Linked DNA regions of Homo sapiens. The protein of the gene in region 2 interacts with the protein of the main gene of each other region in a pairwise test. Each region holds a gene or a part of one and is shown on either strand. Other genes may lie near its edges. The genes, in order: MSMO1 and CYP4F22.

Region 1 (16,117 bases), on a different chromosome or scaffold from region 2:
GACTTAACTACATAGCATGTCAAATACCTCTATCTTTACTTTCTTAATCTTTGAAGCTTTAATAGCTATACTATAATTGCCAAGGTTTGTCAGTAGCTGGATTCATAGCTATGATTTCAGAGACTTTAGACATACCTCCTTCCCCCATGCCAACCTTTGTCTTTCCAGTTTGAAATTTTTTTAAAGGCATATGGAAGTGTTCTCAGCCTGTTCCATTGTTGTATGAAAAATAAGAAGGCAGAGAGGTGTCTTAGAAATCCTGCCAAGGAAGCAGCCCCACGTTTGAGCAGAGTTCAAGGCTGGATCCACATACCTGCGTTGTGAAGCAACTCGTCTGCCTGCTTTGTTGGGATCTATGCCTCCTTGGCTGAAAGCAGTGATGACTGTGGTTAAGGCGGAAGGTGTATTTACTGTCAGAAGACTATCAGTTCTTTCCCTGTTTCTTATGGAGTCTGGTGTATGATTCCTGGTATTTATTATCTCTTTATCGTTCCTTACAGCATAAGAACCCAGGTATTTGTAATCCTAACTGCTGTTGCGTTATGAGACTTAACTTTATGAGGTGTAAAAGGGTCACATGAAATTACATAGCAGTGTGCTGACACCATCTTGGTTTAGTTTTGTCTTAAGCACACTGCCTCCTACTGACTTCCATGGCTGCCAGTGTCTCATTTTGGAGAGGAGGCTACGCTGGAGAATGGAACTATATTTTGAGTCAAGATTCTGGGGTTCTAATCCTGGCTTTAAGGAAAAAAGCCATGTGGTATATTGGAAAGCCCATGGGCATAGAAACAAAAGGGTTCTGGGTTTGCAGCTCCCTCTATCAATTGCTAGCTGTGACTTTCAACACATTACTTAACCTCTAATCCTTATTTTGTTTTTAAAATGGCAATAGGAGTGTCTGTGTCACAAGGTTGTTGCGTTTGAAAGAAATGATGCATGTTAATATGCTTGAAATCCAGCGGGCCCTCAATAAATTACAGCTATTGTTCCCTGAGCCCCCTGTTAATCTTCATTGTAGGGAAATAAGTGAGTTGAGCTGCTGCATCAGCATTTTTTTCCAGCTCTAAGCCTTTAAGGTTTAAAATAATCTGACCCCTCCATACACCTACACCTGCTCTGATTTAGAAAATGTAATACTGTGGTAGAATTCCAAATCAGAAATAATTGCTGACATTTACTGATCATATCTTGTATGCCAGAGACTGTGCAAAGGGCTTTACATACGTTATCTCATGTAATCATCATAAATAACTCTTCGAGGTGTAGGTATTATTATTTCACAGAAGTACCAGATAAGACAGAGAAGTAACTTATCCACTGCTAATAAAATGCCAAGCCTAGTAAGTGTGGCCCGATAGTGTGTGCTATTGATGCTCACCTGATAGAGGATGGCAGGTTTGGGCAGAGAGAAAAGTTGGGTGGCAGTGCAGTCATCACACAACCAATAGGATGGGGAGCTCTGGAGCTGGGATGGCCAAGCAAAGTAGCCCTACATTGGTTTAGGGGATTTTATACCCGTTTCAACCAGTTACTTGACTAGCTGTTGCCTAGAAAGGGGGTATACCCGTGGGGAGAGGTGCTTCTCTTTGGCAGTACTCAGCAGCTGGAGGAATGCCTGCTTAGGTCTTGAAGAGGGGGATCTGGGTGGTGTGCCACAGCATCCACTACAGGACCAACAGATTCATATGCCCACTGCACAGTATACACTGAGACAGCAGGGTTTGCAGAAGAGAAAGAGTTTAGTGATGGCAGGGTGCCGAGAGGAGATGGGAGGAAACCCTCAAATTCATCTCTCTGAGGAGTTCTGTGCTGGGGCTTTTAAGGGGATCCTGGAGGGCAATGGGCTGGAAAATTAGGGTCCTCGATTGGCTGGGGTAAGGAGGAATGAAACCATCAGGATGTGGGAACTGCATTCTTTGGTGAGTCAGCTCCTTGTCAGACCAGCTGAGTCAGTAGTTTCATCAGTACGAAGGACCTGAAAGGTTATCTCAAAGCACAAACTTAACGTTTCATAATGTTCAAGTTGTTGTCTATAGAGCAGTTAGGGGAAACTATAACCTTGTAACAGAGTCTACATGATTCTGAAGCAATAGGCAAACAATTATGAGGAAGGGGTCAGACAGCAAGCTGACCTAATTATTAATCCTCAGTGTGCTGCAAGCTTGGTTTAATTTCGTTCCCCCCACCCCTTTTTCCCAGATTAACTTCATAAAGTATATAGGCATGGTTTCAGACACCACTGTAAAGGCATCCTAAAGACAGGGCTGACTCTGACAACCAAGGGACAGATCCCATTTCTTTTCATTTGACGTGACCGCTGTCATGATACTTTACAAAGAATGTGTGTGCCAAACATGAGGGATAGACGAATAAGTACAGGTCACACTGAATCTAAAAAAGACACTTTTCAAGAGGGAACTTCCTCAAGGAGATAGTACCTGAATTGATGGGGCGGCATGGAGATGGCTGATTATTCCAGGCAGAAGGGCCAGTTTGAGCAAAAGCATGGAGGAATGAAACAATAGTATTCTGTTTTCAGAAGCTGTATATATTTGACACAATATACACATAATCAAAACATGTGTACGCCGTAAACACAATTTTTGTCAATTATACCTTAATAAAGAAGGAGGAAAAAGGGCCTTCACTAGCCCAAATGATGCCCCTGTGCGGTTTTTTCTTTAAAGGCACCTCTTCCGTTAAGTGAAAGTTTTAGTATATTATCACATCTGTACAGTTTTATTATTAAACCCCAGTACACAATATTTTAATGTTGAGAGATGGTGTAAACTGAGCTTTAGAGCTGCAAAGACCTGCGTCAAGCCCCCGCCCCCGCCCCCGCCCCCGGGCACTCATCGTCCAGCACAACAATTGCAACAACACCTGGGCGTTCTCTGCCCATGTAGCGAGGTCAAGGTCCTGGGAGCCGAACTCTCCCTTGATGTTCAATCTTTTTAAATCTTTCCCAGCCTTTATTTCTCATCTGCAAAATGACGATAATCGCATTTGAAATTCTCCGTTTTCAAAATGCAGGAATTTATTAAAGGATACGTAGGCTGGGGAAACAAGGGAGACGAAAGATCTAAATCTAAATGGTAGACCAGAAAAAGGAAGGCAAGGGTGTCTGGAAACACAAAACAGTCAACATAGATTTTAAGACTCATCTATACTCTCTTCTTCCCGGGTTTGGGAACTGCGGTTGCTACACAGGTCACATTTGAAATAAAAGTCCTGGGACGGCGGCCGGCGCGACACTCTCCCCCGCACAGCGCAGGCTCTCACTGGGAATCTGCCGGGACCGCAGTTGCCAAGGCGACTCCGCGCTGCAGGGCGAGGCGGCCATCCGTCTGTGCCCGCCCCCTCACGCCGTGGCGCGCTCTCACGCTTCCCCGCCTCCGGGCGCTCCGCGGTGCCGACCATTGGCTGGCTCTGCAGGTCTCACTATCCTCACTCCATCCGCGGAGCCAATGGCTGGGACCGCCAGGAGCTCGTTCGCGCGAGTCACACGATGTCGGCAACTGCACAGACCAATCACCGCGCCGAGAAGGCGGGGCGGGAGCTCTCGCAGGCCAATAACGACAGGACGGGCCGCCTGGCCCACCCGGCTCCACCCCCAAGCCAGGCGAGGCAGGTTCCGAGGTTGGAACACCTGGCGAGTCCTCGGTGTCGGTGGCCGGCAGTCATCTCGCGGCCGTTCAGGTGAGGGGGTTGGAGGAGTGGCTCATGAGCGAGGAAGGGGGAGCAGGCGGGCTCCCACCCGGTGCTCCGTGAGATCGAGGGGAGCGGGTTCTGGGTGCGGATGCACGCGCTGGGCGGGACGCTGGCAGTGGTACCCGAGACGGGGCGGAAGGAGACTGGAGTGAAGGTGGGCCTAGGCTAAGGTACGTGCTAGAAAGGATGAAAACGGAGTGAAATTCTTAAGTGATGGAACTAGGCTAGGGCATGTTTCTTGCCCTTTAAAATGTGTTGTCTTCGGGAGACAGGACGTAGAAGATAGTTGCAGCACAGGGTGATAGGCTGGCGAAAGTTATACAAAAGCAGGAACCACTAGAAGGAGGTAAGATGTAGTGTGCTTTGGGAGTAGTGGGGTTGGGAAGGGCGTCCGAGAGGAGGTTACTGAAGGATGACTAGGAGTTGAATGGGAGGACATCACCTGTAAGGGAACGATATTTCCGTGGGCAGAGAGGAATGAAGCAGTAGCAACCATGAGTGATCAGATACTGCAAAAATGTGAAGTGTAGGATGGCGAGAATGTAAGAAATGAAGAGTGAAGAAGTCTGGAAGGGCCTCGTGTGCATCAATCACAGCGGGGCTTGATCTTTATGCTTAGGGCAAGCACTCCCTTGAACTTTGAGTGTTTTAAGGAGGTTATCTCTGATGTTTAAATTTATATAGATCGTGGCATTGCATCTTAGAAATAAGGTTTAGGAAGGGCAAGCTTGGAGGCAGGGCAAGTCCAGAAAATGAAGGAGCTGGTGAAATCCGTGTTAAAGTGCCAAAGGACAGAGACTGGCTGACAGCTAAACTTCAAGGTTTCTGAGAATCCACAAATAACTAAATTTATCTAGTCAACCTGTTCCAGAACAGGCTTCCAGTCATTTAGGTTGCCCAAGAATGAGTAAAGGAAAAGGAAATTCAATTTTCCAAGACCTTGTTTCCCCTCTCCTCTTTAATTCCTTGTTCGGTTAGCAACAGTATATCCATTCCCTCGCTCCTTTGTGAAAAGTAAATTCCTGAATGTTAACTAAACCAAGTGTTTCTAAATTGGGTAAGAGTTTGAAGACTTAAGGCAGCAGAATGGGAGAGACTTAAAACGTTATGTCTGAGAATTAGGCATTAAAGGAGGCCTAGTATTTGGGCGGGGGTTGTGAGGAGCACATACTGAACCTTTGGACCTGTTGAGTGAGTTCATGTGCCTCTGAACTCTCTGACTGGATATGACCAGTAAACTTGGATAATTAGATCCTGGAGTTTAGGGGAGAGGGCTAGAGATAGAGATGATGGATGTCAGCATATTTTTAAAACAGAAAATAGTTAAGATCACCCAAGACAATCTGGAATCGTTAGAAGGGAGTAAGGAAGGCATTATTGGGAAACTTTCCAGCTTCAATTCTCATATTTTTTCTAATCTCCTGGTTGAGTCTTTGGAGTTGCTGTTCTCTCTATGCAAAACCCCTCCCTTGACCCTCTCTCCCTCACTCTATTTTTTAATTTGTCACCTCCTTCTCCTGTTCTAGGTCTCAGTTTAGATAGCACCTTTCTCTAGAAGTTCATAGCACTGTGTATTCCCCCCTTTATTGTTCTTATCACATAATTTTTGATGGTTTGGACACTAGTTGTTATTCCTCACTAAATTTTATGTTTTATGAACTCAGGGGTAAGGGCACCAGCTAGCACAATGAATGCACAATACTTGTCAGAGTGAATGCATTTAAGTTCCAAGAACCAAGGAAAGGCGGTATTTCAAGAAGAGAAGTATCAAATCTTCCAGATTAGTCAAATAAACTCCAAAAAAAAAAAAAAAGGTTTATTGGATTTGGCAGCTGGAGATCCATAGCGATTTTTTTTTTTTTTTTTTTTTTTTTTTGAGACGGAGTCTCACTCTGTCGCCCAGGCTGGAATGCAGTGTCGTGATCTCTGCTCGCTGCAACCTCAGCCTCCCGGGTTCAAGCAATTCTCCTGCCTCAGCCTCCCCAGTAGGTGGAATTACAGGCATACGCCACCACACCCGGCTAATTTTTTTGTATTTTTTTGGTGGAGATGTTTCACCATATTGGCCAGACTGGTCTGGAACTCCTGACCTTGTGATCCGCCCACCTCAGCCTCCCAAAGTGCTGGGATTACCAGCGTAAGCCACCACACCCAGCCTCCTTAGTGATTTTAGTAAGAGTAAGTTCAGTGCAGTGATGACAATAGAATGCAGATTGCAGTTGCTAGAATATAAACAGGAAATAAGAAGATAAAGACAACTCGTGGAATACCTTTTCATAGAGCTTAGGTAAACTGTAGGAATTATTCTCCTTGTACTCTAATACTTATTATGGGTTTTATTTATAATTATAGTGTAATATAATGGATGAGTGCATGGGCTTCCCCACTTAGCATTTGTTAAGCATTAACTTAACATTAAGCATTAGACTTTGGGCAAGTTGCTTAATCTTTCTAAACCTCAGTTATTTTATCTATAAAATGGTGATAAAATAATACCTACCTCACGAAGGTGTGGTAAGGATTAAAGTGAAAATGTAGAGAGCAGGTAGCATGCTTTGAACACAGTTCTTGGCACAGAAAGTGCCCAATAATTGTTAGTTTCTTGTAGCTATTACATGCCAGGTCCTGTGCTAACTAAGCGCTTTATATGCATTGTCTCTTGGACTCATTGGAAGACCTACTGTTTTAATTTTTGCTGCTGATAAAACTGCATCACAGAGAGGTTACCTAATTTGCCCAAGGTCACAGGACAGGACTAGTAAGTGGTCTTGGTTCATTATTGTCAAATTTACTAATCACCTTGAGAAAAATTAAGATTGGATGGTTGCCTTATTTTACAACTTAGAAGATGATTGAAGACATTTTGGTGCAGGTGGGGAGCCAGATTGCAAGTAGCTCAGTGAGTTGTGTGGGTGAGTTAAGCAACCTTTTTTATTCTTTTTTTTTGAGACGGAGTTTTGCTGTTGGTGCCCAGGCTAGAGTGCAGTCACAGCTTACTGAAACCTCCACCTCCTCATTTCAAGCGATTCACCTGAACTCCTGACCTTAGGTGATCTGCCCGCATCAGCCTCCCCAAGGTGCTGGGATTACAGGCGTGAGCCACCATGCCCAGCTGAGTTAAGCAATCTTTATGTAGAGCTCTCCTTTGAGAAAGAAGTTGGTTGGTTCAAAGAAAGATAAATGGGACAGTGGCTTGGAAGAGGTAATGGAGGCTAGGAAGGTGTTTATCAACAAAGGAAGATGTAGGCTGGGCGCAGTGGCTCACACCTATAATCCCCACACTTTGGGAGGCTGAGATGGGAGGATTACTTGAGCCTAGGAGTTTAAGACCAGTCTGGGCAACATAGGGTGACCCCTGTCTCCACAAAAAATTAAAAAAATTAGCCAGGCGTGGTGGCATGTGCCTGTGGTCCCAGCTACGAGGGGCTGAGGTGGGAGGATTGCTTGAGCCTGGGAGGTCGAGGCTGCAATGAGCCATAATTGTGCCACTGCACTCCAGCTTGGGTGACAGAGTGAGACCCTGTCTCAAAAAAAAAGAAAAAAAAAAAGAAAAGACGTGAATGTGTTTTTAGACCTGAAGGAATGGATTCCATGAAGGGAGAAGGATGAAAGATGGGAAAGGATAAGTGATGGACAAGTTCTTGAGGTAAGATAAGAACACAGGAAGACTAGTCAGTCTTAGAGGAAAGAATGAATGAGCAAAGAAATTTTAAGGCCTGTAATGACACAGGATGGAACACTATAGTCACTGTGGTGTAAGTCATTTGAGATGAGTAGGACAGAAGGAGGACGGCCTGAAGTGAATTCAGATGCCTGGAGGAGTTGGCTAGGTTCTCAATATTCCTTCTGTAGAATGGGATAAAAGGTCAGTTTGAGAAGTGTTGGGGAAGGGGACTTTTAAAGCACTATTTAGAATGCTTCTGAGGCTTTAAAATACTCATTTTTAAAATGGTCCAAAAAATTCATAAATTAGAAGCAGCAGTGGTGAACATTTTTAGGAAAGTGACCCTTGAGAAGTTTATTTTTTGGTTAGTGACCTATTGAGCTTATTTATTAGGTAAGTAGAACATGCTCATTTAAAAAGTTTAAATTGTGCAAAAGACATATGTCAGATTTTTTTTTCTGTCTTCCATAACACTATTTCCTACCCCGCCGCGCTCTGTCTTCCGTAACACTCTCCCCTACCCCGTCGCCACTCTGTCTTCCATAACACTGTCCCCTACTCCACCACACTGTCTCCTACCCCGCCGAGCTGTCTTCCATAACACTCTCCCCTACCCCGCCACGCTGTCTTCATTAACACTATCTCCTGCCCTGCCACACAACTCTGTTTTCCTAGAAGTCACCAGTGTGAATTTTTCCCTTTATCCATATGTACATTTTTTGTTTCTGTGTGTCTGTGTATATACATATGCATAAAAGTGCATAGATAAAATACATATCCTTTTCAAAAAATCTTAAGTGGGGCTCTTGCTATGCATACTGTTCTGTAACTTGTTACTTGGATTAACACTGTATCTTAGACATCTTTCTATGTAGAGCGTATAGATCTTCCCTGTTCTTTTAAATGGCTGTATAATTGTCTATGGAAGGACTTAATTTATTTAACCCATACCTTGTTGATGGCTTATTTGTGTTTTGCTTTTATTTTTTCCTCTTTGTTTTTGCTGCTACAAGCAATGCTTCCTTCCATCTTAGCGGATCTGTCTTTGTACCCTTGAATGAGAAAGTTGCTGGATCAAAGGATGTATTCATTTTGAATTAGGTGTTGCTAATTTTTCCTCCAATGATACACTGATGTATCCCCCCTGCCCACAGTGTGTGGTCATGCCTGTTCTCTCACCCTCTTACCAGTACTGGACATTAATAAGCTTTTAAAGATTTGCTACTCAGGCTAAAAGTGTCTCTTTGTTTTAGGGTGCATTTCCTCATTTAATGAAGTGAAGATTCTTCCTTGTTTAGTGACCATTTGCCTTTATTTTTCTGTGAACTGCTTGTGAATGGCATTTGTCGTTCTTCTGTTGTCTTTTTAGTCTTTTTTCTAAAGCACACTTTGTAGCCCTTTGTTGTAAAATGTTGGAAATATTTTTCCCAGTTTGTCATTTAATCTTTGACTTTGTCTTTCTATTCCCCAGTAGGAGGTACTTAATTTTTATATACTCATATTTGGCAGGCTTTTTCTTTATAGGTTCTTTTGGCTTTAAGTGATACTTTTAAACCCAGCTATTGCTCATTTAAATTAGAACCTTTTCCATGAGAACCACACTGACGATTTCTTTAAATATAGCTTGAAAAAATTTTTCCCCTATTGTTCTTTTAGCTATTGTTCTTGAAAATAATGTGTTTTTTAAAGGAATATCTACAAATAGAAATGGTGATGATATCCAGCAAATGTTTTAAAATGGTGTAAAACCATTTGTACTCCTTTAGTAATTTTTTGGTAAAAAATTTATACTCCTTTAGTAATTATCATTTTTAAAATGATCAGAGGATGCATTTTTTAACTGTTTTATTTTTTGAAAGCTCATTGTTTAACTTATTATATATGTATTCATTTCTACAGAATTATAAGGCTGTCTGCAGAGATTTGAAAAATGGCAACAAATGAAAGTGTCAGCATCTTTAGTTCAGCATCCTTGGCTGTGGAATATGTAGATTCACTTTTACCTGAGAATCCTCTGCAAGAACCATTTAAAAATGCTTGGAACTATATGTTGAATAATTATACAAAGTTCCAGATTGCAACATGGGGATCCCTTATAGTTCATGAAGCCCTTTATTTCTTATTCTGTTTACCTGGATTTTTATTTCAATTTATACCTTATATGAAAAAATACAAAATTCAAAAGGTGAGTATAAGGGACTAGAAATAGAATATTATCATTAATGTTGCTGAATATTTTAAAAGTACATAGGGCTTTGTTTTGTGAGGCTAAAGCAGTGATATCCAATAGAAATATGAAGCCACGTATGTAATTTTAAATTTTCTAGTAGAATACATAGAAAAGGTAAAAAGAAATAAGGAAATTAATTTCATAATGTGTATCATTTAGCTCAATAAATGTAAACTATCGCTGGGTGCAGGGTCCATGCCTGTAATTCCAGCACTTTGGGAGGCCAAGGCAGGAGGATTGCTTGAGGCCAGGAGTTCAAGACCATCCTGGGAAACATAGCAAGACCCTGTCTCTACAAAAAAGATACAAAAATACCCAGGCATGGTGATGTAAGTCCTAGCTACTTATGAGGCTGAAGCAGAAAGATTGCAGCACTATACTCTAGCATAGGCGACAGAGTGAGACCTTGTCTCAAAAAAAATAAGAAATAAATGTAAATTATTATTTCAATCAGTAATCAAATTCTAAAAAATACTTAATGAGATATTTAATAAGTCTTTGCAATTCCGTGTGTATTTTACATTAATTTTAGTCTATCTCAATTTAGACTAGCCATGTTTAAAGTGTTTGGAAGCCACATGTTACTAGTTGCTCCTGAATTGAGCAACACAGTCCTAGGTCATTATTGATAACATTTCAAGAATACTTTGTTAAATTGGGCTTTAAGTAGATGTGATGGTTATCTAACTTAAGTTTATGAATTTTAATGTTTAAGCTAGCTGGAAAGGAAAGGTGTGGTGATTTGCGCATATTTTGCAGTTCACCCCAACTCTATGTTCCAGTAAATCTAAGGGACTGTTAATACACTACGACCTTGATCAGGGCTATTCAAGTTTTTTTTCCCTAAATATATGGTAGGTAGTTCTGCAGCATTCGTATCATCCCAAATAAGGAGGTGATGCTCCTCGTTTCTGGATATTTGCTTCATTGCACTAAATGTTGAGAGGTCGCTATGTACATGACAAGGTGAAATCTCATATGTAGCCTGTGAGCTTGACGTGAGAATTTGGAGTAGCTTATTAGAAAGATGAATTATTTGTTAGAATTTGTAAGCTGATGATAGTTTCTAGTGTTTGCTGTTTACTTTTCATAAAAAGTCATTCCAAACTAAAACTCAGGGGCACACAGTCTTGGTAGAAAGTAGACCATTGAGAGTATTCATCTATGGAAAGTAATTTACATTCACTTAGTACAATTGGCCCTCCATATCCATGGGTTGTTGTATCCATGGATCCAACCAACTGCAGATCAGAAATATTCAGGGGAAAAAAATTGTGTCTACACTGAACATGTACAGTCTTTTTTTTCCTTGTCATTATTCAAAATGACAACTATTTATAGAGCATTTGCATTTTATTAAGTATTATAAGTGCTGTAGAGATGATTTAAAGTATACGAGAGGATTCGTGTAGGTTATGTCAAATACTATGTCATTTTATATCAGGCACTTGAGCATCTTCAGATCTTGGTATTTGCAGAAAGTCCCAGAACCAATCCTCAAAAGATACCAAAGGACAACTGTATATATTTTGGATGGCAGTCTGTACACATTCTCTGTTATCATTCTGTTAGTTTCACAGCCTCTCCCAGAGTCTCACTTTAAGCAGGTATTAATATTAGTCCTCTCTGGGGATAATGCAGGGGTCAGATGACTGTGGACTCCAGGCCAAAGGAGAAAAGAGCAAAGGGTAAAGGCGAAGGAAATAAAAAATAGGAGGGCCAAAGGAGAGTACTCTGTGACCCTCAATTAAGGTCACAGAAGCTCCAAAGTGCTTTTTAGGAAAGCAGCTGCTTTGAAAGGCAGAATTAAGTTTGGACGTCTAAGTTCTAATGCACCTTTAGGGTGATTGTGGCTGCCGTGTTTCACCCAGTGATTTATTTATAGGGCTTATTCATTGTAATTCATTGTATGGCTGGCCAGGCAAAAGCATCCTTTTTCTCCTTCACTGCAGTTTGTAACTGACTCACTGGTTAGAAGTAGTAACCTTTGCAGAGAGACAAAGGACTTTCTCAGGCAAGGGTATATGAGCAGCTTTAAAATATAATGTGGCAAAGGAAAGAATAAGCTGTAGTCTAGTTGGTCAGAGCTAGTTGTTTATGAACAGATTGTAAGGCTGGATAATTTGACTTCAAGTCTGTACTCAGCAAGTCTTTATGTTTCATAACCATTAAAGTCCATGCTTTGAGCATTTTTGATAAAAAATGTGATTTTAAACCAGGACTAGTTTTCACAAGTTAAAGGAGTTTTAAAAGAAACCAAAATATTGGTACAAATTAATTACAGGTTTATGCATTTCGAAGGCAGATACCCTGATTAACATTGAGGGTATCAATTGTTTAAGATAAAATATTTGAGAATTATATTTAACATATGCAATAAATGTTTTTATTCTTAAAATTGTCGAAAAGAATAGAAGAAGTTGGTGGTGGTGATGAAATAGTACTAAAGACTTTCTGCTTTCAAACAGAACAGACAACTGGAGAGCTAATGCACATCCTTGCTAGTTAGGCGAAAATTTCACAGGAATGAAAAAGTAAAGCAGACTTTGCAGGATCTATTTCTTTAAAAAAAAAAAAAACATACATCTTAGTAATTCTCCAAAAATTTTCCTCAAAGATAAATGTACTAAAAATATTATTTCTGAAGTTTGTGGCCCTTGTAAAGGTATTCCTTTATATTAAGTACAGTTATGCATAAAGAAAGTAAAATATGGTAAACTTTCATATTGCACTAGGTATGAATTTGTATTGCTAACTGTCTTTGTAACTAATTTATGTATACTGTAAATGGTATAGCATGTGATTTTATTATAGTTGATTAACTTTGTAATTTCTGTAACTGCATCGATATCCCAGTCTACCTGGAAAATTAAGTCTATTAACCATAGTTGCTGTAGGAGACAGTACTATTGCCAACTGAAGCCTGAATCCTTCATTTATTTTGTCCCCAATTACAGAGTGGAGGTTTAGAGGAGTGGGGTTAGATAATGCTCAGATTAGAAATACAAAGGCAGCTGTCAGATCCTCCCATTTTATTGTTGAAGAAACTGAGTTGTAAACATCACAAGAGCTAGTTAACTGGTGAGTAGCAGCCCTGGTATTAGAGCACAAGTCTCTGGATTGATTCTTAGTTCAGTGCTTTTCCTATTTTTGTCAGGAAGATAACCCTTAAAGAATTTCAAGAACAGAGCTGGATCTGGAGACCTAGATTTTAGTTAGTCCAACTTCTGCTAATAACTGCGTGTGTGACCCTGCCCAAGCTGGTTGACCTCTTTGGGCTTCTGCTGATGCGCAGTAGTTCCCGTACTTTGGATATCGTGGTTCAATTAAAAGAGTTTTGTTGGCGGATACCTGAATTTTTCAGCAGTGACATTTAAAACAAAGCAATAACTGATATTTATTGTCACCATCGTTTTGTTAAGCCCAAAGCACTTTTTTAAGTGCAGTCCTATAAATTGAATACATTTAGTTAGTGTTTGTTTTGTTTTGCTTTGTTTTTTATAATGACTTGCTAAGCAAATGGGTATCCTGATGAGGTCTTAACGAACATCCCATGTTGATCTAACTTTTCTCATTTTGACTTGAATCTGTGAACTCCATAATCAGGACATATCTGTGTACTTCTCAACTCAGAGAGTTTATAATTCTGTCATTGGATTTGAACAAAAGTGCATTTATTTGTTGGAATGAATACCACTGAGTGCCTGGAAGCATCGACTTACTGTGTAAAAGGCTTCCAATGCTTCGTATACAACTTCTTCAATTGTGGACACCCAACAGTAATCTTAGCATATTATATTTCTTCTTCTCTGAAACTTCTGGTAAAAGAAGTGAAGTGAATGATCTGTGGCAGCAAAGACTGGAGAATTATTCATTCCATAGTGTTTCTTAGTTTGTTTGAGATCATCATGGCTAGGCGCATCTGTTAACAGTTTCTTCACCTGAAGTAGTGATAGTAGTTGTCAAGAATTTAGAAGGCAAAGATTCCTGAGTCTTAGTTATATAAAGTTAACATAACTGACGTAGAATTAAGGTCCAACATAAACAGAGAACAAATTAGGTCAAGTTAAACTCTGATAGCAGAGACTAATATTAGATATTGTGATTTTTCTTCGTAGGATAAGCCAGAGACATGGGAAAACCAATGGAAGTGTTTCAAAGTTCTTCTCTTTAATCACTTCTGTATCCAGCTGCCTTTGATTTGTGGAACCTATTATTTTACAGAGTATTTCAATATTCCTTATGATTGGGAAAGAATGCCAAGATGGTACGTAGATAAAAATTTGGCTTTTACACCCAATTGTGGCTTATTCAGTTAAGTTATACTTAATGTTTACCCGTTTTCTTAATTTTAGTTAATGTTTGTTCTAAACTTTGGAAGTAAATAAATAGTAGAAAAGTAAACCACAGTAAAATCTTAAAATGTTTCCATTTTTACATCTTTTAAATATTTTATTGGAAGGTGAGCTTCTAGTATCAGAAGTTTCCATAACGTCTTTTGTATGTTTATATACATGTATAAGTGCTTATGTTGACAAAAATATATTACATTTTAATTTTAAAATGAATGAAATATATGAGAATCATTTATGAGGTTTATAGAAATTGTGTTTACATGAACAAAAATATGTATGTGTATATATATATATATATATATATACACACATATATATATACACACACATATATATACTCATGCGTCACTTAACGGATATCTCTTGAGAAAAGTGTCATGAGGCAAGTTGTGTGAACATTGTAATGAAATGAAATTGGTCTAATGGGCAGTCTCTTTAACCTTATATCAAGTTATGTAGCTGTATCTGGTGGTTTTGAGAATTTATTTATGAATATATCCAATTAGGTCAACCTGGTAAGTGGGTGGGTGGTTTTATGTAATGTCTCAAGCAGTGATCCCAACTAAAAGTCTGGATAGTTTAAGTAAAAATTATTTCTTACACATTACAACATTTTTATCTTAAAGGTATTTTCTTTTGGCAAGATGCTTTGGTTGTGCAGTCATTGAAGATACTTGGCACTATTTTCTGCATAGACTCTTACACCACAAAAGAATATACAAGTATATTCATAAAGTTCATCATGAGTTTCAGGTATGTGAGAGTTATATTTAATTCTTTCTGTTAGAGGCAAAATGTCTATTTTAATTGCCTGAGCATTTTTCTAAAATTGTTGGTGACGTTTTTATTTTCTTTTCCTTTGGCATGATTATTAAGAACAATACACACACATACAAACAAGCCATTTCTACACATTGTTTTCATTATTTAAATTTCATGGTAAATTGAGATCTGAAAGAAAAATATTATATGAAAGTTCGGACTTCCATCCTTGTGGACAGTGCTACACTGGCACAGCTAGATCCTCACATTGCTAACTCCCACAAAAACAGTAACTTCTATGAGCACTGCTTTTTTTTTTTTTTTTTTTTTTTTTGAGATAGAGTTTTGCTCTTGTTGCCCAGGCTGGACTGCAATGGCATGATCTCAGCTCACTGCAACCTTCACCTCCTGGGTTCAAGCAATTCTCCTGCCTCAGCCTTTCAGGTAGCTGGGATTACAGGCATGCGTCACCACGCGTGGCTAATTTTGTATTTTTAGTAGAGACAGGATTTCACTATGTTGGTCAGGCTGGTCTCGAACTCCTGACCTCAGGTGATCCACCCGCCTTGGACTCGCAAAGTGCTGGGATTACAGGCGTGAGCCACCATGCCCGGCCAATTAGAATTGCTTTGATGTAGCTTTGTCAACTGGTTATGTGAGTATGTTTTGCATTGACCGTGATTACATGGTGTGCCAAATCAAGCCTCTCTTTATTAGAAGAACAAATATAAATACTTAAGTCAAAATTAGAGTTCAAGTCAATTATTTAATGCCTTTATCTTAAACCATCAAAGACAGCAAGATTTTATATCCCTAGACTTTTGATGTGGAGTAAGGTATTTTTATTGAGAATTGCTAGTATTATTTATAAGTGTATGACTAGATAAATCATCACTACATATAGAATCAATATAACTTTGTAAAACTTTATGCATAAATAGGATATATATATTAGTGAAGTCTCCAGTGAAGCAGAATCATTGGGGTATATATATGCAGAGAGAGATTTATTTTAAGGAATCAGCTCATGCAAGTGTGCGGCTGTCAAGTCTGAAATCTGTAAAGCAGGCTACAGACTAGAAATCCAGGTAAGAATTGTTGCAGCCTTGGGTCCAAATTCCATGGAGCAGCAAGTTGGAAACTCAGGCAGGGTTTCAGTGTTGCAGTCTCGAGAATCCTTCTTCAGGAAACCTCAGCCTTTTATCCTGAAGGCCTTCAAATGATTGGATGAAGCCCACCCTCATTATGAAGGGTAATCACCTTTACTCAGTCTACTGATTTAAATGTTAACAACATCTAAAAAATACCTTCACAACAACATCTAGACTGGTATTTAATCAAACAGTTGGATATCATAGCCTAGCCAAGTTGACACATAAAATTGACCATCAC
Region 2 (16,117 bases):
AAAACTTGCAACACATAGTAGGTCCTCAGTAACAAGCTAATGACTTCGTTACTCTAGGCATTATAGGGGCACGTTCCAGTTGGATAAGGCAGAGATTGTCTTAGAAATTAAATAATTAATTCATCCAAGAAATATTTACTGAGTGCCTAGTAAGTGCCAACCCTGAACTAGGTGCTGGGAACACCATATTCAACAAGAAAGACAAGATGTTGCTTTTCTAGAGCTTCCATTTTAGTAGGAAGACAGGTAATAACCATGAACAAGTAAACAAACAAGAAAACGACAGACTGCAATAAGTGCATGAAAACAAGCCCACTTCAGGACTGAGGACAGCTCCCTTCAAGCCTGCTTCACCTGTTAGTTTTTAAAAAATAATGGCTTTGTTGAGACACAATTCACATACTATACCATTTACTCATTTAAAGAATACACCTGAACTGCTTTTAGTATATTCAGAGTTGTGCAACCATTACTATAATCAATTTTAGAATATTTTCATCAATCCTCCCCCACCCCAAGAAACTTCATACACTTTAGCAACCCGTGCACTTCCCTTTCTCCTTCAAGTCTAGGCAATCACTAATCTATTTTCTATCTCTATAGATTTGCCTGTTATGGATATTTCACACGGATGGAATCATACAGACTTTTGTGTCTGGCTTGTTTCACCCAGCATAATGTTTTAAAGGCTCATCCATATTGTGGCATGTATCAGTTATGTATTTCTTTTCATTGATGAATAATGTTCCATTTACCACATAATACCACATTTTGTTTATCCAGTCACCCATCGATGGACACTGTTTCCACTTTTCGACCTTTATGAATAATGCTGCTATTAACATTCATGCACAAAGTTTTGTGTGAACATACATTTTTAATTCTTTTGGCTATATACCTAGGAGCAGAATTGCTGGGTCATACGGTAATTCCATTTTAAACATTTTGAGGAACTGCTAAACTTTATTTCAGTGGGTTTCAACATGGTATGAAGTGGTTGTACCATTTTGCTCTCCCAACCAGTGATGTATGAGAGCTCCAGTTTTTCCACATACTCACTAACACTTGCTTTTTTTTGTTGTTGTTGTTTTGTTTGCTTTTTAGAGATAGGATATTGCTCTGTTGCTCAGGCTGGAGTGCAGCCCAACACTTGTTATTATAAGTTTTGATTTTAGTCACCTTAGTGGGGTGAAGTAGTATCTCATTGTGGTTTTGATTTGCATTTCTCTGGTGACCAGTGCTGTTAAGTATCTTTTCACATTCTCATTGGAAATTTCTGTCTTCTTTGGAGAAATGCCTATTCATATCCATTGCCCATTTTAAAATAAGTTTTAAGAATTCTTTATTTATTTTAGGTACCAATCCCTTATCAGATAGACAATTTGCAAATATTTTCTCCCATGCTGAGGAGTGTAACCATTTAGTTTTAGTGATGCTACAATGACTATGCCTATGTTGAAAGTCTTTATCCCTCTTTGGGCCTGTTCAAAAATATACCCGAGACTGGGTGTGGTGGCTCAGACCTGTAACCCAGCACTTTGGGAGGCCAAGGCTGGAGGATCACTTGAGCTCACGAGTTCAAGGCTGCAGTGAGCTATGATTGTGCCACTGTACTGCAGCCTAGGTGACAGAGCAAGACCCTATCTAAAAAAATAAATAAATGAATTTAAAAATAGAGTTAATATAGGGCTTCTCTTTGTTATCTATTCAATGGGGACAGGAGGCTTATCTTAGCCAAGCCAGGGCTGTGCTATGCTAGGGGAAGGGGCTACACTCATGGATCCCCTTCTCCTTGGCAGGAAGATGAGTGATTATATCTCCGCTATCATTGAACTGAGCGCTCTGTCTGTCCGGCGCCAGTATCGCTTGCACCACTACCTCGACTTCATTTACTACCGCTCGGCGGATGGGCGGAGGTTCCGGCAGGCCTGTGACATGGTGCACCACTTCACCACTGAAGTCATCCAGGAACGGCGGCGGGCACTGCGTCAGCAGGGGGCCGAGGCCTGGCTTAAGGCCAAGCAGGGGAAGACCTTGGACTTTATTGATGTGCTGCTCCTGGCCAGGGTGAGGCTGGGCCCCCTGGAATTGCTGGCCTCCCGAGGGCTGGCCTCCCGAGGAATTGCATGTAAAATGATAAGTGTTAAAACTCCATTAGGCGTGGTGGCTCACACGTGTAATCCCAGCGCTTTGGGAGGCCAAGGCGGGAGGATCGCTTGAGCCCTGGAATTGGAGATCAGCCTGGGCAACACAGGGAGACCCTGTCTCTACAAAAAACAAATAAGTTGGGTGTGGTGCCGCATGCCTATGGTCCCAGCTACTTGGGAGGCTGAAGCAGGAGTCTGGCTTGAGCCCAGGAGTTGGAAGCTGCAGTGAGCTATGATGGTGCCACTGCACTCCAGCCTGGGCAACAGAAGCGAGACTCTGTCTCAAAACAAAACAAAACAATACACATGCTCAAAACAAAAAGAAATTCACATGGGTCTGGGATGGGGTCAGAACATGTAAGACTTACTGCGTGAGTTTTCTTGGGCTGCTATTACAAAGTACCACAAACTAAATGGCCTAAACATCAGCCATTTATTCTCTCACAGTTCTGGAAGCTAGAAGTCCAAGATCAAGGTATCTGCAGGGCTGGTTTCTTCTAAGGCCCATGAAGGATGAATCTGTTCCAGGCCTTGCTCCCTGGCTTGCAGAAGGCTGTCTTCTCCCTATGTCTGCGGATCATCTTCCCTCTGTGCCTGTCTCTGTCTTCGTCTCTTTGTATAAGGATTAGGGCCCTGCCCTAATGAGTTCATTTTGTCTTGATTACTTCTGCAAAGACCTCTCTCCAAACACGGTCATAGCCTGAGGTACTGGAAGTTAGGACTTATGAATTCTAGCGGAGGGGGGGTGGGCAGGGAACCATTCAGCTCATCACAATTGCAAAAATGAAATACATGACCTTGGGCTGGGCGTGGTGGCTCATACCTGTAATCCCAGCACTCTGGGAGGCCAAGGCAGGTGGATCACTTGAGGTCAGGAATTCGAGACCAGCCTGACCAACATGGAGAAACCCCATCTCTACTAAAAATACAAAATTAGCCGGGCGTGGTGGCACACACCTGTAATCCCAGCTACTCGGGAGGTTGAGGCAAAAGAATCACTTGAACCTGGGAGGCGGAGGTTGCGGTGAGCTGAGATCATGCCATTGCACTCAAGTGAAACTCCGTCTCAAAAAAAAAAAAAAAAAAGAAAAAAAAGAAATACATGACCTTGAAGAGATGAGACACTTCTATGGTCACTCATTGGTGTGTCTGTGGACCTTTTGGGTTCTGGATTCAAATAGTCCTGGATTCCAGTCCTGGCTCTGTCGCTTAGTGGATGTTTGACCTTAGTCATTGACTCTTCTTCCCAAGCCTCAGTTTCTCCATTTATACCATGGTGATCATAAAACCTGATCACAAGGTTGTCAGGCATCCAGTGGGATGCTTGGTGTTGGAGGCTGCTCAAGAAATATGAACTTCCTTCTTCTCCTCACTGTTGACTTTCTGTCCCTCTTTACATCTTTCTTTTCTTTTTTCTTGTTTTTTAAAAATGTAATTTAAAGTTCCAGGATAAGCCGGGCGCAGTGGCTCACCCCTGTAATCCCAGCACTTTGGGAAGCTGAGGTGGGAGGATCACCTGAGGTCAGGAGTTCAAGACGAGCCTGGCCAACATATTGAAACACCGTCTCTACTAAAAATAAAAAAAAAATATTAGCCGGGCGTGGTGGCATGCATCTGTAATCCCAGCTCCTCTGGAGGCTGAGGCAGGAGAATCGCTTGAACCCTGGAGGCAGAGGTTGTAGTGAGCCAAGATTGCGCCACTGCACTCCAATCTGGCAACAAGAGAGAAACTCCATCTCAAAAAATTTTTTTTTAAATTAAATGGAAAGTTCAAGGATACGTGTGTAGGGCGTGCAGGTTTGTTACGTAGGTAAACATGTGCCATGGTGGTTTACTGCACCTATCAACTCATCACCTAGGTATTAAGCCCTGCATGCATTTGCTATTTATCCTGATATTCTCCCTCCTCCTGCCACCCTGATAGGCCCCCCAAGTGTGTGTTGTTTCCCCCCTGTGTCCGTGTGTTTTCATTGTTCAGCTCCCACTTATAAGTGGGAACATGTGGTGTTTGGTTTTCTGTTCCTGCCTTAGGTTGCTAAGGATGATGGCTTCCAGCTCCATTCAGGTCCCTGCAAAGGACATAATCTTGTTCCTTTTTATGGCTGCATAATATTGCATGGTATATATGTACCACATTTTCTTTATCCAGTCTTTCATTGATGGGCATTTGGGTTGATTCCATGTCTTTGTTATTGTCAATAGTGCTGCAATGAACATATGTGTGCGTGTATCTTTATAATAGAATAATTTATATTCCTTTGGTTGTATACCCGGTAATGGGATTGCTGGGTCAAGTGGTATTTCTGGTTCTAGGTCTTTGAGGAATTGCCACATTGTCTTCCACAATGGTTGAACTAATTTACGTTCCCATCAACCTTGTAAAAGCGTTCCTATTTCTCCACAGCCTCACCAGCATCTCTCACTCAGGGTCTTGCTCTGTCACACAGGCTGGGGTGCAGTGATGCGGTCATGGTTCACTGCAGCCTTGATCTCCTGGGCTTAATCCTCCTGCCTCAGCTTCACCAGTAGCTGGGACTACAGGCATGCATCACCACACCTGGCTGATTTTTTTTTTGTAGAAATGGGGTCTTACCATGTTGCCCAGGCTGGTCTTGAACGCCTAGGCTCAAGTGATCCTCCCACCTTAGCTGCCCAAAGTGTTGGGATTATAGGTGTGAGCCACCATGCTGGGCACTTTCCATCTTTATTAGACAAGTTGCATACTTCCATCTTCCTGGACTAGTTCCCCCCACAGCTTGGCTTAAGAGAGAGAGGGGAGCCAGGCGTGGTAGCTCATGTCTGTAATCCCAGCACTTTGGGAGGATGAGGCAGGTAGATCACTTGAGGCCACGAGTTCGAGACCGGCCTGGCCAATATGGCAAAATTGCATCTCTACTAAAAATACAAAAATTAGCTTGGAGTGGTGGCATGTGCCTGTAATCCCAGCTATTCAGGAGGCTGAGGCACGAGAATCACTTGAACCTGACAGTCGGAGGCTGCAGTTAGCCGAGATTGTGCCACCGCACTCCAGCCTGGGTGATAGAGCGAGACTCCATCTCAGAAAAAAAAAAAAAAAAAAAGATGGGGGCGGGGAGATATCTGAGTTTTGAGGAGCCCCTAGGATGCGGAGGGTGGGATGAAGTGGGCTGAGCACCCTCTACTGCCCATTCCAGGATGAAGATGGAAAGGAACTGTCAGACGAGGATATCCGAGCCGAAGCAGACACCTTCATGTTTGAGGGTGAGGATGTGGGGTGAGGCTGGAGGAGGGCAGGAAGGGACATCATTGTCTGTAGACAGCATCTCTGCTTTCTTCAGGCAGCCTCCATTCAGATACCCTCATCTCCCTGCAGGTCACGACACAACATCCAGTGGGATCTCTTGGATGCTGTTCAATTTGGCAAAGTATCCGGAATACCAGGAGAAATGCCGAGAAGAGATTCAGGAAGTCATGAAAGGCCGGGAGCTGGAGGAGCTGGAGTGGTGAGTGTGGGGTCAGGGGAATGGAGGGGGCAGGTTGAGGCCAGAGCCTTGGGTGTAAGCCTCTGCTCTCCCACTTACTGATTGTGTGACCTCAGACAAGCCACTTTAGCTTCCTGAATTGCAATTTCTTCAGCTACAAAATGGGGGTGGTTATAGTGCCTATGCCCACCTCATAATGCAGAAGTTCTCAAAGTGTCCTAGTCAGCAATTATTGCAATGATGCTGCATAATGAACAGCTCCCAAACTTAGTGGTTTACAGCAAGCATTTGTTTCTTGCTTTTGTATGCACACATTTCTTGCTCTTGTCTGCTCATTACTCTAATTGCTGTTGGACTTGGCTGAGTGGAGTGGAGTTGCTTCAAAACTAAGAGCTGGGTTCAGATCTGCTTCATATACTCCCTTTCTGTTCTCTTTGGACCAGAGGCTACCCTGGGTCGTATTCTTCTCAAGGCAGATTCCAGAAGCACAAAAAGCCATGAAATTTAAAAGCTTTGCTTGGGCCGGGTGGGGTGGCTCACGCCTGTAATCCCAGCATTTTGGGAGGCCGAGGTGGGTGGATCACCTGAGATCAGGAGTTCGAGATCAACCTGGCCAACATGGTGAAACCCCATCTCTACTAAAAATACAAAAATTAGCCAGGTACGGTCATGGGTGCCTGTAATCCCCCCTACTCGGGAGGCTGAGACAGGAGAATCACTTGAACCTGGGAGGTGGAGTTTGCAGTGAGCTGAGATTGCACCACTGCACTCCAGCCTGGGCTACAAGAGTGAAACTCTGTCCCCACCCCCCCACAAAAAAAGATAAAATAAGTAAATAAATAAAATAAAAAAAAAAAACAAAAGCTGTGCTTGCACTAGAAGATTGCATTGGCTAAAACAAGTCACGTGACCAAGCCCAGCATGAATGGGGCAGGACATATACTCCACTCACCTGAGCAGAAGGCACTGAAGAATCATATGACAAAGGGTACAGGTATATAATTCTAATTCAGGGAGGAAGTGGAGAATCAGAACACATACCCAGTCTCTACCAGATTCATGCTATGTAGAGCTGATTCTGGGTGATGAAAAGAAAACACAGCATTAGGCTGGGCGTGGTGGCTCATGCCTGTAATTCCAGCACTTTGGGAGGCCGAGGGGGGTGGATTGCTTGAGCTGAGGTGTTTGAGACCAGCCTGGGCAACATGACGAAACCCTGTCTCTACAAAAAAATACAAAAATTAGCTGGGTGGGGTGGCGCATGCCTATAGTCCCAGCTACTTGGGAGGCTGAGGTGGGAGGACTGCTTGAACCCAGGAGGTGGAGGCTGTGGTGAGTCAAGATTACGCCACTGCACTCCAGCCTGGGTGACAGAGTGAGACCCTGTCTCAAAAAAAAAAAAAAAAAAAAAAAGAAAAGAAAAGAAAAGAAAAGAAGAAAAACACAGCCGCAACATTAAATAGCATCAACTCACACAGTGAGGAGGTTCCTTTCGGTTCTATTTCAACCTTTTGCCTTATGGCCTCAGGGGGACATGCTCAGTGGGGTGCTACTGTGTCCTGAACACTTTGCTAATCTTCCTTTTAAACAAGTGGAGAAGATGTCTCAGGTTGAGAGAGTTGGGTGGGAGTTGGTGTGTAGACACAATTTAATAACACACTACTGCTTTCACAGTGGTGTTTGTATGGATGAATACCTTTATGCCAGGGATGCTGTTTGCCCTTTATAGCAACATGAAGTTTATTTTTTTTTAAGACACAGGCTGGAGTGCAGTGGCATAATCATAGCTCACTGCAGCCTCAAACTCCTGGGCTCAGGCAATCTTCCTGCCTCAGCCTCCTGAGTAGGTGGGACTATAGGAGTGTGCCACCACAACTGGCTAATTTTTAACATTTTTTTAAGAGATGGGGACTTGCTGTGTTGCCCAGGCTGCTCTCAAATCCCTGAGTGCAAGCAGTCCTCTTACTTTGGCCTCCCAAAGTGCTGGGATTATAGGTGTGAGCCACTGTGCCCAGCCATAAAGTTTCTTTGAAAGAGAACCTGGGCCAGGTGCAGTGGCTCATGCCTGTAATCCCAGCACTTTGGGAGGCTAAGGCGGGTGGATCACTTGAGGCCAGAAATTCAAGACCAACCTGGGCAACATGGTGAAACCCTGTCTCTACTAAAAATACAAAAATTAGCTGGGCGTATTGGTGTGTGCCTGTAATCCCAGCTGCTTGAGAAGCTGAGGCGTGAGAATTGCTTGAACCTGGGAAGCAGAGGTTGCAGTGAGCTGAGATTGTGCCACTGCACTCCTGCCTGGATGAAACAGCAAGACGCCATCAAAAAAGAAAGAGAACCTGCTAATTTAAAGAAACTAATCTAATCTAGAACATGAACCAAGAGTTATCATTAGCCCAATTTTGGGCCCTAAAGTCCAAGGGAAAAAATATTAAGTAAATGATATTATAAGGAGATAATGCACTTTTCTTTTCTTTCTTTTTTCTTTTTTTCTTTCTTTCTTTTTTTGAGATAGGCTCTCACACTGTGGCCCAGGCTGGAGTACAGTGGCATGATCATAGCTCACTACAGCCTCCTGAGTAGCTGGGACCACAGGTGTGTGCCATCATGCCCAGCTAATTTTTTAACTTTTGGTAGAGATGGGGTCTCTCTTTGTTGCCCAGGCTGGTCACGAACTCCTGGGCTCAAGTTATCCACTTGCTTCGGCCTCCCAAAGTGCTGGGATTACAGGTATGAGCCACCATGCCTGGCCTGCACCAGTTTTTTTTTTTTTTTTTTTTTTAAGACAAGAGTCTCACTCTGTCACCCAGGCTAGAGTGTAGTGGTGCAATCTCATCTCACTGCAACCTCCGCCTTCCGGGTTCAAGCAATTCTCTTGCCTCGGCCTCCCAAGTAGCTGAGACTACAGGTGCACGCCACCACACCCAGCTAATTTTTGTGTTTTTTAGTAAAGATGGGGTTTTGCTATGTTGGCCAGACTGATCTTGAACTCCTGACCTCAGACGATCGCCCATCTCAGCCTCTGCAAGTGCTGGGATTACAGGCGAGAGCCACCACACCTGTCCTGCAGCAGTTTTTTAAGTACAGAAATGGACCATATAAACTGGCATATTGCTGTTGCCGTGAGTCCCCTTGGCTGTCCTGGCACCTCGCCTAGGTGCCCCTGGACCTCCACATAATTCATCAATTAAAGGCTTAATGCTGGGCCCAGCAGAGGGCCCAGTGCTAGTGCTGTTCTGAGCGGTTGGTGCTCAGATACTTTGCATCCTAAGTATTAGTACTGGCCGGGCACTGTGGCTCACGTTTGTAATCCCAGCACTTTGGGAGGCCGAGGTGGGTGGATTGCCTGAGGTCAGGCGTTTGAGACCAGCCTGGCCAACATGGAGAAACCCTGTCTCTACTAAAAATACAAAAATTAGCCGGGTGTGGGTGCGCATGCCTGTAATCCCAGCTACTTGGGAGGCTGAGGCAAGAAAATTGCTTGAACCTGCAAGGCTGAGGTTGCAGTGACCCGAGATGCGCCACTATGTTCTAGCCTGGGCAACAAGAGCGAAACTCGGTCTTAAAAAAAAAAAAGAAAGAAAAAGGAAAAGAAAAAACAAAAAAACCACTAAATATTAGTACTTCCCACCTGTGCATGAGACAACTGCAAATGGCAGAAATTGGGGCAAGTCTAAAATCCTGGACTGGTTTCTTGCCCAGCTGCCCCTGAGAGAGAGAGAGAGAGAGAGAGAGAGGGAGAGAGTGTGTGTGTGTGTGTGTGTGTGTGTGTGTGTGTGTGTGTGTGTGTGTTTTGGGGAGGTGGTGCCATGGTGGCTCGGCCTCTAGTTATATCTCCATTCTCCCCAGGGACGATCTGACTCAGCTGCCCTTTACAACTATGTGCATTAAGGAGAGCCTGCGCCAGTACCCACCTGTCACTCTTGTCTCTCGCCAATGCACGGAGGACATCAAGCTCCCAGATGGGCGCATCATCCCCAAAGGTGCCTACCATGTTCCGCCTGCTGCTGGTGCACTGCCTCCAATGATGTAGCTGCTCTATTGTCCACAGGGGCCTGGCTATGCCTGCCCCAGGTGCACTATCCCTGCAGATGGGATAGCTCTCTGTGTGCCTGTTGCTTCTGGGGTGTTGGAGAAAACCCAGTTGTGTGTGCAGGGAGATAGAGCCGGGTGAGTCCAGGTGGAAAGGAAGGAGGCAGTGTCGCAGGGATGGGCCTGTGAGGGTGCAGTTGGGGAGGGTCAGTTTCATTCAGTTGCCAGTTACTCCCTGGAGACCAAGCCCTGCCTTGGTTGATACAGGGGACCCTGGCTCAGGTTTTGAGTATTGCCCTTTCTGGGGGAGATACAGCAGGGTGCAGACATTCCCAGGCGTATGGAATCAGGAATGGGCTAAAGGGAGAGACAGGGGCTGGAGTAGCTCCAATATGGAGAGGAATGCAGGGAGGGCTGCCTGGAGGAGGGAATGTGGGAGGTGAGGCTTGGAGTGTGGAAGTGAAAGAGTGAGCATGTTTATGGAGTAGAGCCTCAGGATGCAGATTTTGAAAGGCCTTGAGTGCCAGGTGATGGCGCTTGAACTCAATCCTGGGGGCAGCAGGGAGCCAAGGTAGGTGTTTGAGCTGAAGAGGAGCAATGTCAGATCTGCGAGTAAGAAAGATCCCTATGTGGCCAGCTTGGCAGCCAGAAAGAAGATGATAGGTTCCTCTTAGGGAAAGGTGGGAAGAGTGGATGGGGCAGCAGAATTTTTTAGAGAAGGATGGACAGAAGGTGGTGGCAGATGGCTCATGGGAACATCATGGCTCTAGGGAGACCCAAGTTGGGGGATGTTTCTGGAGGAGGCCCTGGCTCCCCTTGGCCCCACTGATCCCATCTTTCCCCACAGGAATCATCTGCTTGGTCAGCATCTATGGAACCCACCACAACCCCACAGTGTGGCCTGACTCCAAGGTGAGTGCCTGCCCCACTCCTCCCTGCCCTCAGGTCCTCCCCTCCCCTGCGCCCCAGGGAGCCAGCGAGCAGGGCTGGTTGCAGGGCCTGAGTGCGCACACCCCTCCCCACTCCGCATTTAGCCATTTATTCACCCACTGATTGTTAATTCATTAGGGCAGAAAATATTTATTGAGCACCTACTGTGTGCCAGAGTGTGTGCTGGGCTCTGAAAATAGAGGATGATACTGTCTTTGCCTTTACAGGGCTCACAGTGAAGTTTTGGGGAAGACAATAAGCAAATAAATAAGATTTTGGGTATTGATACATGCACAAAAGAAAGAAAAACTGGGCCAGTTCCGGTTTACAGGTGCAGTGGCTCACACTTGTAATCCCAGCACTTTGAGAGGCTAAGGTGGGAGAATCGCTTGGGCCCAGGAGTTTGAGACCAGCCTGGGCAACACAGCGAGACCCCCCATCTCTACCAAAAAGGAAAAAGTTGGCCCAATGTGGTGGCTTGTGTCTGTAATCCCAGTGCTTTGGGAGACCAAGATGGGAAGATTGTTTGAGGCCAGAAGTTCCAGCTCAGCCCAGCCTGGGCAACACAGTGAGACCCCATTTCTAAAAAAAAAAAAAGTTAGCCAGCCATGGTGATGCACATCTGCAGTGCCAGCCACTCGGGAGGCTGAGGCAGGAGGATCGCTTGGGCCCAGCAGTTTGAGGCTGCAATGAGCTATGGTTATTTATTTATTTATTTATTTGAGACTGGGTCTTGCTCTGTTGCCCAAGCTGGAGCGTGTGCAGTGGTGCGATCTTGGCTCACTGCAACTTCTACCTCCTGGGTTCAAGAGATTCTCCTGCCTCAGCTTTCTGAGTAGTTGGGATTACAGGTGTGTGCCACCATGCCTGGCTAATTTTTTTGTATTTTTAGTAGAGATGGGGTTTCACCATGTTGGCCAGGCTGGTCTTGAACTCCTGAGCTCAGATGATCCATCTGCCTTGGCCTCCCAAAGTGCTGGGATTACAAGCGTGAGCCACCGCGCCCAGCCTGCAATGAGCTATGATCGCGCTTCTGCACTCCAGCCTGAGTGAGACTCTGACTCTAACAAACAAACAAACAAACAAAGACAGACAAACAAACAAAAAAAAAGAAAAACAGGTGGAGGGGGCACTTTAGCTCGAGTGGTTATGAAAGGCCTTGCCGAGGAGATGTTTGAGCTGAGAACTTAGGGGATGAAGGATCAGGGAGAAGCCTGTTCTAGGCAGAGGAAACAGCAAGTGCAAAGGCCCTGAGGTGGAATCTCACTGGTGCGTGTGAACAACAGAAGGAGGCAGGTGTGGCTGCATTGCAGGAAGTGCAAGGTGGAATGGAAGAGGTGGCCCTGGGGTGCTCCCCATCCATCTTTACTGACCCCCAGAGGCTCAGGGAAGGGGGCCAGGCTGGGATGTCTGGGGCAGCCCCCAGACTCATCTCCAGGCTGTTCCTCCCTAGGTGTACAACCCCTACCGCTTTGACCCGGACAACCCACAGCAGCGCTCTCCACTGGCCTATGTGCCCTTCTCTGCAGGACCCAGGTAACCCCTCTATTTCCCCTAGTCCAAGCCAGCTGTGTAGGAACAGAGGCAGGGAAAGATCAGGAATGTGCCTCTCAGGAGCAGAGATCAGATGGCACCCAGGCGTCCTTTCTGAAGACCCAGCACCCTCTCCCCAATGCGCCAGGAGGCCCCCAAATCAGACTCTGCAATAGCATCCTGGGTATTGAGCACCAACGGTGTGTCAGGCCCTGAGTTCTGGGCTCCCACGCTCCCATTGGCTCTATGATGCCTTTGTCCCCGTTTTTACAGATGAAGGAACTGAGACTCAGAGGGGGCGCTGTGTATCCAGGACACACAGCTAGTAAGAGGCTGTACTGGGATTCAGACACTCAACCCCAAGGTCACATTAATTGAGCGATCCGTGGGGTCTCACTTTAACCCTCACCCAGCGTGGGGTTTCACTTTAACCCTCAGCCAGCCCAGGATGCTTGCTTCATTTTCAAAGGAGGCATGTGACCCCCGGGGACCAGTGCTCACACAGAAGCTGGGCCTGAGCCCTGTCCCCTCTTCCTCCAGGAATTGCATCGGACAGAGCTTCGCCATGGCCGAGTTGCGCGTGGTTGTGGCACTAACACTGCTACGTTTCCGCCTGAGCGTGGACCGAACGCGCAAGGTGCGGCGGAAGCCGGAGCTCATACTGCGCACGGAGAACGGGCTCTGGCTCAAGGTGGAGCCGCTGCCTCCGCGGGCCTGAGCGTGGGCGCGCCCCTGCGGCTCCCGAGGGTCCAGGCCCCGCCCCCAAAGGACCAGGACTCGCCCCAAAGATCCCGAGGGCATAGGCCACCCCCCTCGAAGTTCAGGTTCAGCTCCTGGATGACCAGGCACCGCTGTTGAGCAGCCTGGTGGTACTGGCCACGCCCCTCAAGGCAAGGCTCCTCCCCTTAGGGGGCCTGATCCCGCCCCTTGAGGCTTAGGTCCCGCCCCCTGACTTCTCGCACCTGTCCTGTTTGAGGGACCAGGGTCGACCCTGCCCCCTTGGGCTCAGGCCCCGCCCCCAGGATCCTACGGATTGAGGTCCTCAGGCCACGCCCCTGCAGATCCAGGTCTCCAGGCCTTGCCCACTGAGCCTTCAGAGGACCTAAGACCCACCTATGACTCAGGGCCCACCACACCCCACCCCCCCCCAACTGGCTGAACCCCTGGCAGGCTTCCAAACTGAGGAAAGCTGGAGCCTGACGTCAGAGCTTTTAACTCGGACATCACCCTCCTGAGGCCCTCAGCTCATACGGGCAGACTGCTCAGGCGTGAGGCTGGATCGTAGGGTTCGAGGCTGCTTGCTTTTGTTGTTGTTTTGTAAACTCAGACCCTTGTAAGCCCCTTCCTTCCTCCCTTGCCCAAAGATCCTTTGCTGAGTGTTCTGTTTTTGCAGAATAAAAGCAAAGGATGCAGACTTACCCCACCCTCCACCCCTAGCTCAGCCAGATCCTTACACGTGGAGCCCCCAGCATGGGAATGAGGGGCTCTGCAACTGAGCGAAGCTGCGGGCTAGGAGGCTGGAAAGCCATTTATCCTAGGACATAAACTCAGATTTTGGGGGTCAGTTTGTGTGTTCATTTATTTCATCAACAGATCACATATTGTTTGCTGGCACTGCTTCAGAACCACAGGCAGGCCCTGTTTTCTGCCTTCTTAGGGGGTGGGGGACAGATGTTGAACAAATAATTCCACGTGTAAAGGTTTATTTACAACCCAGGACAGGTGCTCCAAAGGAGAGGCCCCGGGTGCTGGATGAATATAGCAGAGGGATGGGGATGGGTCAGGGAGAGCTTCTCCGATGCTGGAATGGAAGTTGAGTGGGTGACAAGGGGAGGGAAGAGTATTCCAGGCAGAAGGAACAACATCTGAGAATACCCTGAGCTGAGGGAGAACAGAGTGTGTTTGAGGAACTCACCAGGGGCCAGGTGGTTGGATCTGGGAAGTGGGGGCAGAATGAAGGAAGGGGCCAAATGCACAGGCTTTATGCTGAGGGCAATAGGGAGCCATGGAGAGTGTGTGAGCGGGATCAGGACAGGACATGGCCAGATCTAGGGCTGGCAGGGAGGTGACTTGCGGGGTTGGGACCCTGGGAAAGAGGGAAGCTGAGGTCCAGACAACAGGAAGGGCCAGGATTGGGGTGACTATCTAGCAGTGGGGGCTGAGGGGAGGGAGGTGGTAAGGGTGATGCTCAGGTATTTGGCTGAGGGAACTTGATGGTAGAGTAGTCCCTGATATGGGAATATAAAAGATGGGGGCCAGGCGTGATGGCTTACACCTGTAATCCCAGCACTTTGGGAGGCTGAGGCTGGAGGATTGCTTGAGACCAGGAGTTAGAGACCAGCCAGGGCAACACAGTGAGACTCCATTTCTACAAAAAATAAAAAATTAGCCAGGTGTGATGGTGCACATCTGTAGTCCCAGCTACTTGGGAGGCTGAGGCAGGAGGATCACTTGAGCTGAGGAGTTTGAGGCTGCAGTGAGCTATGATCACACCACTGCACTCCAGCTGGGGCAACAGAGCAAGACCCTGTTCCAAAAACAAACAAACAAAAAAAGGTGGGCAATGACAATGTCAGCAATTTTATACATATAAAATGCTACACTAAAGGAAAATGATACTGCTATTATACCACATATATAATATATATATATGCACTATATATGCCATCATTATATATATAGTGGTGGTATAATAGTGGTATCATCTTCCTTTTAGGTAGCATTTGCCTGTAGACTATTTCCATCTAGGTCACTAGAGACAATAATATTAATTCAACAGGCCGGGTGCGGTGGCTCATGCCTGTAATCCCAGCACTTTGGGAGGCTGAGACAGGTGGATCACCTGAGGTTAGGAGTTTGAGACCAGCCTGGCCAACATGGTGAAACCCTGTCTCTACTAAAAAATACAAAAATTAGCCACGTTTGATGGCGGGTGCCTGTAATCCCAGCTACTCAGTAGGCTGAGGCAGGAGAATCGCTTGAACCTGGGAGGTGGAGGTTGCAGTGAGCCGAGATTGTGCCACTGCACTCCAGCCTGGGCGACAGAGTGAGATTCTGTCTAAAAAAAAAATTAATTTACCAAATATTTCTTGGGCAATCTGCCGTGAGACAGGCACTGTTTGAGCCCTAGGTTCCCAGAGTTTACCTCTAGGGAGGAGATATGATAAATGATAAATAAGTAAAGAAAGAAGTAAATTCACACAGGGCCTTTTCTGTGACTTTTTTTGTGACAGAAATGGGGAGTTCTGAGCAGAGGAGGGACAAGCTTTGTCATACGAACTTTTTTTTTTTTTTTTTTGAGACAGGGTCATGCTTTGTTGCTCAGGCTGGTGTGCAGGGGTGCAACCATAGCTCACTGCAGCCTTGGCCTCCTTGGGCTCAAACGATCCTCCTGCCTCAGCCTCCTGAGTAGCTGGGACCACAGGCACACACCACCATGCCCAGCTAAGCTTTGTATTTGTTATCGAGACGGGGGTCTTACCATGTTGCCCAGGCTGGTCTTGAACTCCTGGTCTCAAGCGATCCTCCCACCTCAGCCTCCCAAAGTGCTGGAATTACAGGTGTGAGCCACCATGCCAGGACTTCCACAGGACTTTGTGTGCTCTGTTAAACAGAGACAGTGTGAGCAAAGATGGGACTAGGCAGATCAGTTAGGGGTGACTGCATTCGTCCAGGTGAGACATGATGGTGGCTTCAACCAAGCCGGGGTCTTTAGATGTGATCAAGAGCAATTGGATTCCAAGGAGGAGTGACTGTTCACAAAGGCAGTGCTGTCAGGCTTGGTGGTGGATAAAACGTGAAGTTTGAAAGAAGTGGGGGACACTAGGTTTGGGCTTGAACATCTGGAAAAATGGAACTGCCATCAGCTGACGTGGGGAATGCTGAGTGGAGTAAGTTGTTTTGTGGGAGATGTCAGGATGTCAGTTTTGGTTCAGAGGAATTGGACATGTCAGTCGAATAAACGGTTCTCCAATTCAAGAGTTTTGGGTTGGGCATGTATATTTGGGAAGCCTT

Evidence for each region.
Region 1: the proteins of CYP4F22 (region 2) and MSMO1 interact in binary tests that used the Homo sapiens proteins (3 or more experiments, as listed by UniProt).

Annotation. Positions count from the first base shown.
Region 1 is NC_000004.12:165,324,063-165,340,179, forward strand, and holds the start of MSMO1 (methylsterol monooxygenase 1), read left to right. Parts: upstream 1-3,606; 5' UTR 3,607-3,702; exon of another isoform or gene 3,703-3,884; intron 3,885-9,277; 5' UTR 9,278-9,308; coding exon 9,309-9,563; intron 9,564-13,726; coding exon 13,727-13,875; intron 13,876-14,589; coding exon 14,590-14,716; intron 14,717-16,117. UniProt on the Homo sapiens protein: Catalyzes the three-step monooxygenation required for the demethylation of 4,4-dimethyl and 4alpha-methylsterols, which can be subsequently metabolized to cholesterol.
Region 2 is NC_000019.10:15,538,651-15,554,767, forward strand, and holds the end of CYP4F22 (ultra-long-chain fatty acid omega-hydroxylase), read left to right. Parts: intron 1-1,799; coding exon 1,800-2,067; intron 2,068-5,320; coding exon 5,321-5,387; intron 5,388-5,499; coding exon 5,500-5,629; intron 5,630-9,457; coding exon 9,458-9,591; intron 9,592-10,487; coding exon 10,488-10,552; intron 10,553-12,023; coding exon 12,024-12,106; intron 12,107-12,643; coding exon 12,644-12,821; 3' UTR 12,822-13,667; downstream 13,668-16,117. UniProt on the Homo sapiens protein: A cytochrome P450 monooxygenase involved in epidermal ceramide biosynthesis. Hydroxylates the terminal carbon (omega-hydroxylation) of ultra-long-chain fatty acyls (C28-C36) prior to ceramide synthesis.